3 linked regions of the Homo sapiens genome follow. The protein of the gene in region 1 purifies or fractionates together with the protein of each later gene. This does not show direct contact. Each region holds a gene or a part of one and is shown in the gene's direction. Other genes may lie near its edges.

Region 1 (3,500 bases):
TGGTGTCTCTTGCTCTTCTTATAAGGATGCTGGTCTTATCAGATTAGGGCCCCACCCTTACAACTTTATTTTACCCGAATTACCTCCCAAAGGCCCAATCTCCAAATACAATCACACCGGGGCTTAGGCCTTCAACATGTGAATTTGCAGGGGACACAGTTCAGTTTATAACACCCCTTAACTGCCTTATTCCACTGGCTCCCCTTCAAGTTCTTCAAGTGACCATGACTGGCTCTCTTCCCCCATGCTGCCTGTGTATGGGTTGTTTCCTCTGCCTGGCATGCTTTTCTATCTTACTCTATTCTCTACCTGCTCCCCACTTCCATCCCCTTCCCCAGGTTAATATCTTTCTCCTCTCTCAGATCTCCCCAGGGAAACTGGCCCATCCTCCCTGACTTCATTAAACCTCCCACAAAACAAGACTCACTGTTGTCATTTTACATTTAATTGTGCAATTACTCGACTGATGTCTGTCTTCCTTCTAATTCCTTGTGGATAGGTGCATGCCCTAATTTCCCTCAACACTGTACCTCATTCCAGCATAGTGTCTAGACATAGTAGGTAATGAATATTTGTTGACTGAACAAATGAATGAATGAGCCTCAGCTTGGAATTGAGAAGCAATGTTCTGTTTTCCCTTGGGCATGCATTCGTATAGAGGTTTATCATTCCTCAAAAGTGTTCTGGTTCATCTGAACCAAAGATGCTATCTTTGAAAGGGTTATGATTCCTCTGAGGCCTCTGAAGTCAAACCAACATGCAAAACATTTAAGATTTGCTTGCCCCTGAGCAAATGAACACTATGTGCTAATCAGACCCTGAATGTTAGCTTTAACCATGTATATCTGCCAGAAGTAACCGTGAGATGAAAGTGACTAGGGTGGTGAATGGTCCTTGTTAAAATCTATTGAACAAGATGTTAAATGCAATGATACAACTCTACACATTATTTCTTAGCAGGCTCTTTCACCACTTTTTAACAAGGGGTCCTCAAGGTAATGAGGATACAGTGGGGGTGACATTTTGAAAATATTAAACCATGTGTTTATGTCTCCACCTTAAATTGCATCCACTTGCAGCCATCTCTCTCAAGAGTGAGCCACACTTATCACCCCAGGGTAGGAATAAGCAGCTACTGCCTGGGACAAAGGTGTTGTGGATCCATCCTGGGTCCAGAGGATGGAATTACTGACCTCTTTAGCTGGGCAATTATCTTAAAAGCCAGACTTTGTGAAGGATGAAAAAGGATTGCCTAACTTCATATCTCTCCCTTTAATGTATCATGAGCCCAGCCTAGTGGACTGGATCAGCCAGTTCCAGATGAAACCATAGCTAAGGGGTTTGGAATTTATCCTTGGAAGCCATTGCAGGGTTTTAAGAAGTTAAACAGCACAGTTGGATTTCTAGTGCTGCCCCTAGAGTGACAGCATTTGTTGCATTCCAATTTGGGTCAAAGTACAGGCCTGGCTGTGTTTATAGAATAAAAAAACAGACAACCCTTCATTGGAACACAGTTCTGGCAGAGCAGCTGACACTGGTGAGTTCTCCTTTCCATTAGGCAGACCTCTGGCCCTTGGTTTCTCCAAGTCTTGCTGCTGCCACTGTCCTCCATGGCCAGACAGTGACTGCTTCCATTCAGCAACTCCCACTTTCCCAGCACGGAGGCCCAAACCGCCCCCATGTTGCTCAGGCCCTGATTAGGAGGTGGCCCTAGGGAGCTAAACTAGGTCACAGTAGCTCTCACCTGTCATCTCTATTGCTCAATGGTCTATTCGTTCTTCAACGACAATCTCCAGCTACGACCAACTCATATATCTCCCATGACAAAACTTCCTACCACTTACACTAGCATTCTGCATATGATATATCTCAGTGCCTCCCACTTCTTCCATGAAGCCTTCCTGGACTACGACAGCCTATACTGATGTTCCTATGCATGGTGAGCCATCTTAGACATTTCTCAGAAGGGGGCACAGATGATGTCTCTCGACTATATTGGAACTCCCTAAGATCAGGGACCCTTCACTGTTGTACATCTTCAACCTTCCTTACTGGGTTGGGGGCAGAGTAGCCATGCATTGCTTGAGAGATTGATGGATTGAAGTTCTCTGACAGTGGCTGCTGCTCCTGAAATGGAGGAAAAGCACCCTCACTGTGATCCTCAGGCAGCTCTCTTGGCTCTACCTTCCTTTCCTTCTTTCCCTGTGCTAGGCAGAATTCTGAAATGGCCTCCAAAATGCCTGGTCCATAAGGTATACGTATCTTCTCCCAGTTATTCAATCAAACACTAATCTAGTGCTGCAAGGAAGGAAAGTAATTAAGTTCCCAAATCTGTTGACCTTAAAATAGGGAGATTTTCTGTGTGGATTTAACCAAGTCACATGAGCCTTTAAATCTGGGTCTAGAGGTCAGAGGCAGGAGAACTAAGAGTCAAAGCATGAGAGGCATTTGACCAGGGAGAAATTCTCTGTTGCTGGCTTTGGAGATGGAGGGAGCTGGCAGAGAATATAGGTAGGTTCTAGGAGCTGAGCACCAGCAAGAAAATGGGCCCTGAATAAGCTTAGAGGTAAAATTCCCCCCCAGAACTTCTAGAAAAGAATTCAGCCTGGCCTACATGTTGAGAACCCAGGCATACCTTGCCTGGATCTCTGATCTACAGATTTGTGTGCTAATAAATAGGTGTTATTTTAAGCCACTAAATTTTTGATAATTCACTATGTACCAATAGAAAACGAATGGATTCACTGAACTCTGCTGAAAGGAGCTCCCAGGTAAACACATGGCCTACCTTAGTTATAACTTCCAAGACAGGTTCAATCTCCAGAAGCTTCTCTTTGAAAAGTCTCACCTTCCAAGAATTGCCTTTGGCCCAGCCATTCACAGATCCACCAACCACTTGTTGGTCACCTGCTCAGTGCTCAGTGATCTGGAAGTTTAACAAGATCCAGGGCACCATGGAATGTTCACTGGACTTTTAAACTCTCGTTTGGAGAATTACAAAATTTGTGGGTTTGAGTCCCACTGGCTGGATTTTCAGAATGCTGATGCCTTGATAGTCAGAAAGGAAAACAGTATTGAATTGATCTTATAATTATCATCCTTTTGGTAGCTCTATTTCGTCATAGCCTGGCAATGACTAGGCGCTGCATAAAGGTTTGGTGGATAAGCTGATGCCTAGGCAGCTCTGCTGCTTTCCAGAGTCCTCCTCACCAGAAGGGAGATGCCTGTACCCCTCATCATTTGGCTTCAGATGGAAAAAGTGTGTCAGGGAGGAAGCCAACCCTGGTGCTGAAGCAAGTCTGAATAACAGAAATGTCTTGGGCTAACAGACTTTATCATTTTCTGATTTTAGAGCCTTTCCCGATTTAGAAACTTGACAAAAAGTCTTGTTTGTACTTACTGAGTGTAAGAGCCATTCTGGCAAGCAGAGGGTTTAACACTCAGGCCACTGCTTTGCACACCGCAAAGGTGGCTAGGTAGTTGGAGAGCAGTGGTGTTAC
Region 2 (3,500 bases), on another chromosome or scaffold:
GTCCTCCCCCAGCTCAGAGCATTTCCTTCCTTCATTCTAGTTTCTCACACCAAAAACTTAGAAGTTATCCTGGAATTCTGTCTTTCTCTCACATCACAGCCACACTGGAAGCTTCTACTATTAATTCTGTCATTGAAATACATTCAGAATCTGATTGCATCTCACCACACACACTGTTACCACCCTGATAGAAATCATGATCATCTTTCTCTTGGATGATTTCAGTTGGCTTCATACTCATCTCCCTGTTCCCAGCCTGGCACCCTTTCAAACTTCAACACAGTAAAGGAAGTCAAATCACTTCATCTTTCTGCTCAAATCTTCCAATGACTTACTATGTTAGTCACAGTAAAAGCCTAATTAGATGTACTTAACCTTTAGGTAGTATAATACATTGATATAATTCTCATCTCTTAAATATATCAAAGAGAGAAAAATCTCTGAAAAGCTAAAATAGTTTTTAAAATTAAGGAAAACACAGCTCTAAAATTTAATTACAGCTTGATAAAAAATCAGATGCAATTTATACCATATTTCTAGATAGATCACCTCTGTAATCACATCCTAAAGGCTATGCTTGCCTCTTCAGAGCAGTTTTCATATGATTGGAAGAATAAAATTTTGGAAATCCCTAATATATTTGTTTGCATTTTTTTATGATTCAATCTTTCATTTAGCAAACATTTTATATCTCCTAGGACATAGAAAAGGGAAGACTTATAGATTCTATCCATTGAAGTTACTAGCAGTTCAAATACTTTTTTATTTCATGTACAGGGATGACTAAGATAAATCCAACCTATTCCAACTAGAGCTTGATATGATCACTAACTTGACTATTCCAGATTCTTCCTGTGGTATCACAAATTAGAATAAATGGGCCTATCAGTCTTAATTTAGCCACAACTACCTTAGTCAACTTGCAGAACTTGTTATTTGTCTGAAAACTTACAGAGTCATCTTTTCTATAATGCTGTCCCATACAATATGTGCTGAAATTATTTCTTCCATTCCTGAACATCCATAACATAGGGTTTATTTGCACTCTGGGTAACATAAATACACATTATTTTAATTCATTCCTAATTTTTTTTCCAGTGCTAACTCTTATTTGGATTATAAACTTCCCAAGGGCATTTTCTTTCTTGGCATGCATGCATATTATAGCAAGATGAAGTTTCTATTTCTGCGCAAAAAATTGTAGCCAGGAGATATTTAGAATGTTGAAATTGACATATTCTTTTTGTCAAAACAACAAATCAGTAAAAACAGCTTTTCTTAAGTTATTTGGAAATGATCACAAACTTTTTCTTTTTTTTTTTTTTTAATTACTTTTAGCAAGCTCTATTGCCAAGATTGGCTCAGATCCTTTAAAACTGGTACGTGATGCTATGGAGGAAACCACGGACTGGATCTATGGCTTCTTTTCTTTGTTATCTGACATCATCTCATCTGAAGATGAAGAAGATGATGATGGTGACGAAGATACTGATAAAGGTACAAAGAACATAGAGATATATCTAACTGCTAGGAGCAACATTAAATATGTATTATAGTGGCTTGCCTCAGTTTAAATTCAAATGAGCACTTGGGTCAAGCTAAACCAAAATGAATACACTTCTGACTGCTAAAAGCATATCAACAGGCTGCCAAACACAGTAAATTGTTCTTTATTTAATTTTCATCTTATAGCTTATCTACCATTATGGCAAAGATGTCAAAATTAAATGTTAATATTAATGTAGCATTACAGCAAAGGGAGTCTCATTATGCTCTGCTATAAAACCACAATACAAACTCACATTTATATGCTTCTTTGGAAAAAATAGTTATTTTTCAAGTTTATCTCTAGGAAGATTAAAATAAAAACAGTAAAACTAAAAATACATATAAGTGTTTTATACACATATGTCATATTTATAGTCAAATAGCAGAAAGCAATCTTACTAAAAGTACAATCAAAAGAGTAAATTTATTGGACCAAATGGTGGTGTAGAATAGAAGGACACATTCTAAATGTCCTAACAATTATGCAACTAACCTATGTGCTCTCTCATATATATTAATGAATAAAAGGAAATAGCCATCTCAAACCACATAAAAGCTGCCATTGAATGAGTATGAAAAGAACAAAGCACTGTGATTCCATCTATTAGATAACACTTTTTAGGGTCAGTCTTAGTCATCAGAAATCATGTATTCAGCCTTGACTACCAGGAAAGCTTTTATTATTAGAGTATTTTTATAACTTTTCCTGAAATTATATTTGTTTTGGCCCCAGTAAGAGTTCAACATGAACAATAGAGAGTTGAAATTAATATGATATATAACCTATAATGTATAATTTGGATCACTGCCACAATTTTATTGAATTCATAAAAATGAAACAATCTTATATAAATGTATATAAACAAACTTTATACTTAAAAACTGGAATTTGGGAAGCAAAGTAATGTAAAGACTATGATTGTTAAAACTAATAGATTTTTTTAAATAAACAAAAGGGGAAAATAATGATGTCATATTATTCTATGCTAAAATATTTTCTAACTTTGTTTTTCTTTTAATCTTGGTCTAGGAGAAATAGATGAGCCTCCCTTGAGAAAAAAAGGTTAGTTGTTTTCACCTTTGATAATAATTATTTTTCTCTTATGGTAATATTGGTTTTCAGCATGGTTCAAATATATTTTACTTATTTTAATATAAAGGTTTTGTTTAATAATTAGGTCAAGATTTATAGTCAGAAAAAAAATACTCAATTTCTTTTCCAATGAAGGTGATCTCACTACTTTTCTGTTGATTATTTTTTAAATGCCTTATTCAGTAGATTTGTATGGATTCATTTATACACAGACCAATATGAGCTGGAATTTGAGGAATGAGGGGAGAATTCTGTAGCCTTAGAAATGGCCCAGAAAATGACACCCATGATTTATTCTCACCATGGTCAGATTTATTGATTTTAAATGTTTATTCTTATTCTTTTCCTTTTATTTTTTTTGCCATCATTATTTTGCATGTTAGGTGATGACTATGGGCCAGGACAACAAGACGGTGAGGGACATAACAGCCTAGGAGGCAAAGGCATATCCAGTTGGTATGTGTGATGTGTCACTGTCATGGAGTGGAGTTACCTGGATGTGCCTGGATGTGCTGTAGAGGAATTACTTGCAGGAATAGATAAGGTGACTGAGTGAAGTGGTCACAACCTGAATGATAAGAACGATAAACCTAGGACAAAGGAGGACAGCAATGGGGCAGGAATTTCAGAAGACAGAGATTTTGACAGGAAGGGGTAGGAACTGCATCTGGAAGGGGCACTGGGGAGCAGGTAGTACCATCTTGAGGTACATTTGTTGTGAGAAAACAGCCAACATTCAAGCCAGACTTAAAACAATTGCAGTGTTTTAGTTACTGCTACACATGGGCAGGCTGTTGAGGGTTTACCCAGGAAGATAACCCTGGCTTCTGTTGCTCTCTCCTAATACCTACTGTGGATT
Region 3 (3,500 bases), on another chromosome or scaffold:
AGAAGAAGTCATATCAAGTTGCTTTATTGAGTCATATTATTAGAATATACCCTTTGGCTTGATCTAACTATGTGTATTAATTAGGTAAGTATTTGAAAAGTTGAGCCACATTTTACAATTTAACGTTATTCCAGAGGTACTTTTTTAAAAAAATAAATCTGTCTTTAGTGAAAGGGCAAATTCAGAATTTTTAAAGATGCCTTCTGCCTTTGCTGTTGCATCCAATGTATGCATGTTACATTCTCCTGCTGATGAATGAACAATCCACACCATTTTCCTTGCACACCAGGCAACATGCATTCTGAAAAATACAACACAGTTAATTAATTCTAATACCACTCCATAAATTTTAAGCAGCAACCCTGGTAGTGCCAATATACTAGCAATTCCCTCAGCATATTTGCTCTTACCACTTAGCACAGTTGCTCACAAACTGCACTGTTAGGAGTACAGCGTCACTAGTAATTAAAAGGACAGTCATAGTAACATTACACTTTGGTGTGCTAATAATTGCTGAAGTGTGAGACTAGTGGATAATAAACTCATTATTATAAAGTACCTCTTAACCTGCTAAGAACTTTACAATGATGACTGATGTTTTTAAGAATCTATTTTTGAAAAATGATACTTGCAAAGCTTTTTTTTTTTTCTTTTTTTTTCTGAGATGGAGTCTCAGTCACCCAGGCTGGAGTACAGTAGTGCAGTAGTGTGATCTCGGCTCACTGCAACCTCCGCCTCTGGGTTCAAGCAATTCTTCTGCCTCAGCCTCCCGAGTAGCTGGGATTACAGGTGCCCACTACCACACCTGGCTAATTTTTGTATTTTTAATAGAGATGGGGTTTCGCCATGTTGGCCAAGCTGGTCTTGAACTCCTGGGCTCAAGCGATCTACCTACTTCAGCATCCCAGAGTGCTGGGATTACAGGCATGAGCCACTGCACCCGGCAACAGTTATTTCTTAGTGTGTCTAATTCCTGGTCCATATTCATAATTTTACAGTTGCCTCAAAATTATCTGTTTACAGAGAGCTTGTTTACACTGCTGAAGTCCACATGTTATGTTTCCTGTGGGGTCTTCTCTTTCTCTCTTAATCTTGAACAGTTCCTCCCCGGCACCACGTGGTTATTCTCACCTCCTGGATCAGTTGTCCAATATAGTGTCCAAAACCTTCTGGATTTGTCTGATTGCTACCTTGTGGTGGTAAATTTGTTTTTTTATCCTTGTATTTCCTACAAACTGACAGTTAGATCTACAGACTAGATTCGATTCAGATCAGTCCTATTTTACGTTTTTTAGAGATGAGGTCTTGCTCCATTGCCGAGGCTGGTCTTGAACTCCTGGGCTCGAGCGACCCTCCCGCCTTAGCCTCACAAAGTTCTGAACTTACAGGTGTGAGCCACTTGCAACTGGCCTAAAGTGTTTTTCTTATGCTTTTAAAAGCAGATTTTTTGTTGTTGTCGTTGTTGTTACAGATAATATTTCTATGCATCTTGACATCATGGAGAAATCCTTTTTGAGAGAGGTAGAGGGGAAAATTTAGTGATTTCCAAAATCATACATCATTTATGGATTTTAATTCACTTTATTTATGAATATAAACTATAATATGTTTAATTTATCTTGCTTATACTTGGTATGTTTATAAGTATTTAAGTCTAATCTCTTGAAGTTTTAATTTTTCCCTGGCATTTGTATATAAAATAGTATGCATGAGTTATTGCCACATTCAAAGTTGGTACTTGTTTTGGAGACTGGTGTTAGTCATACTAAATGTGTTTTGTTGTTTCCAGAACATTGGGTGCTTTCTGCTTGAAGTTACCACCAAAGATCCTTCCCTTGTGGTAGCAGGAGAAGCTTTGGATGCCCTCTTTGATGTTTTTGCAGATGGTAAAGAAGCCGAAAGAGCCTCGATTCAAATTAAATTATTATCTGCTCTGAAAGAATTCCAGCCGGTCTTTAAAATGAAGGTTTGTAGCCATTTAACTTATAAATACATAAGTCTGAACATTCTGTGGGGACAAGGGTGTGTGTAGTTACCGCTGTGCAACTCAGAAGCATGTGCATGACGAATCCCCATATGTAGCACAGCATCCCCAGTACTTTGTAAAATGTTCGTTGACTGAGTCATAGCTCAACAGTGTGACTACTGAATCATTGAAACTGAAGCTAAAATGGTATCTGACAAGTTCTTCTTTTTTTAAGTTTAGTAATTTTGACAATGCTTCATATATGTCAGTATTATACTCTGTATTTTGCAAAGCACTTTCATACACATTTTGCATTTATTTAATTTTACTTTTTTTTGTTTTTTTGAGACAGAATCTCACTCTGTCGCCCATGCTGGAGTGCAGTGGTGCGATCTTGGCTCACTGCGACCTCCCCTTCCCCAGTTCAAGTGATTCTTGTGCCTCAGCCTCCCAAGTAGCTGGGATTACAGGTGTCCACCACATCACCCAAATAATTTTTGTATTTTTAGTAGAAACGGGGATTCGCCTTGTCATCCAGGCTGGTCTCGAACTCCCAACCTCAGGTGATCTGCCCACCTTGGCCTCCCAAAGTGCTGGGATTACAGGTGTGAGCCACTGTGCCCAGCCATATTGTTCTTAAAGGTTACAGTCCTTTAAATTTCTGGATAAAGAGCTTGCAAGATAAGAAAAAAATATCCCCTATTTCCCTGCAGCTTCAAGGAAAGCAGATATATTAATAGTTAGAGTCATCAAACTCTGCAGAAGCAGGTGCTTAAAAAAGGTTAAACAGTGAACTGGGAAAATAACCCCTGACTTCTGAAAGGTCTTTGTTCTGATTGATTTTCCTACTCAGTATGTATTGCTGTGGTAATAACATTTGTTTTTCTTTTATCAAAGGTATAAAGCTCTAATGAGATTTCTTCCTAGCCAGAGGCTAGCCTGTAGTTATTTATGTGAAACTCTTTTTTTTGCTAAATGAAGCCACAATTTGTGTTAAAGGCTATTCAGTGTATATTTAGCTGCAAAATGCATTTATGTACAATCAAGAACTTCTCTTGAGCAGTGTTTCTCAAAAGTGCCCTCCTTGTATCAGCAGCATCAGCCCTTGCCTGATAACTTATTCAAAATGCAGGTCCTCGGCCCCAACTCCTGACCTACTGAGTCATAGACTCTGTGGATGGGCCCACCAGTCTATTTTTCAACAAGCCTTCCAGATGATACCGTTGCACACTAAAACCTGAGAGCCACTGCTCTAGACTAGAGGTGAGATCAAACTCAGATTCCATACAATTGATATAAAAAACCACAGGCCAGGCGCAGTGGCTCACACCTGTAATCCCAGCACTTTGGGAGCCCCAGGTGGGAGGATCACTCGAGTCCAGGATTTCAAGACCAGCCTGGGAAACATAGCAAGAACTTGTCTCTACAAAAAAATTTTTTTAAGTTAGCCATTAAGTGGTGGCTCATGCCTGTCATCCCAGCTACTCAGGAAGCTGAGCAGGAGGATCGTGTGAGTGCAGGAGTTGGAGGCTAC

What was found. Proteins that work in one complex are often made in the same cells at the same time.
Region 2: the proteins of GPR39 (region 1) and TRDN purify together in Homo sapiens (co-immunoprecipitation; one large-scale study listed by IntAct). This does not show direct contact.
Region 3: the proteins of GPR39 (region 1) and HEATR3 purify together in Homo sapiens (co-immunoprecipitation; one large-scale study listed by IntAct). This does not show direct contact.

Annotation. Positions count from the first base shown.
Region 1 is NC_000002.12:132,423,305-132,426,804, forward strand, and holds part of GPR39 (G-protein coupled receptor 39), read left to right. Parts: intron 1-3,500. UniProt on the Homo sapiens protein: Zinc-sensing receptor that can sense changes in extracellular Zn(2+), mediate Zn(2+) signal transmission, and participates in the regulation of numerous physiological processes including glucose homeostasis regulation, gastrointestinal mobility, hormone secretion and cell death.
Region 2 is NC_000006.12:123,546,451-123,549,950, reverse strand, and holds part of TRDN (triadin), read left to right. Parts: intron 1-1,338; coding exon 1,339-1,497; intron 1,498-2,578; coding exon 2,579-2,611; intron 2,612-3,500. UniProt on the Homo sapiens protein: Contributes to the regulation of lumenal Ca2+ release via the sarcoplasmic reticulum calcium release channels RYR1 and RYR2, a key step in triggering skeletal and heart muscle contraction.
Region 3 is NC_000016.10:50,100,470-50,103,969, forward strand, and holds part of HEATR3 (HEAT repeat-containing protein 3), read left to right. Parts: intron 1-1,789; coding exon 1,790-1,966; intron 1,967-3,500. UniProt on the Homo sapiens protein: Plays a role in ribosome biogenesis and in nuclear import of the 60S ribosomal protein L5/large ribosomal subunit protein uL18 (RPL5). Required for proper erythrocyte maturation.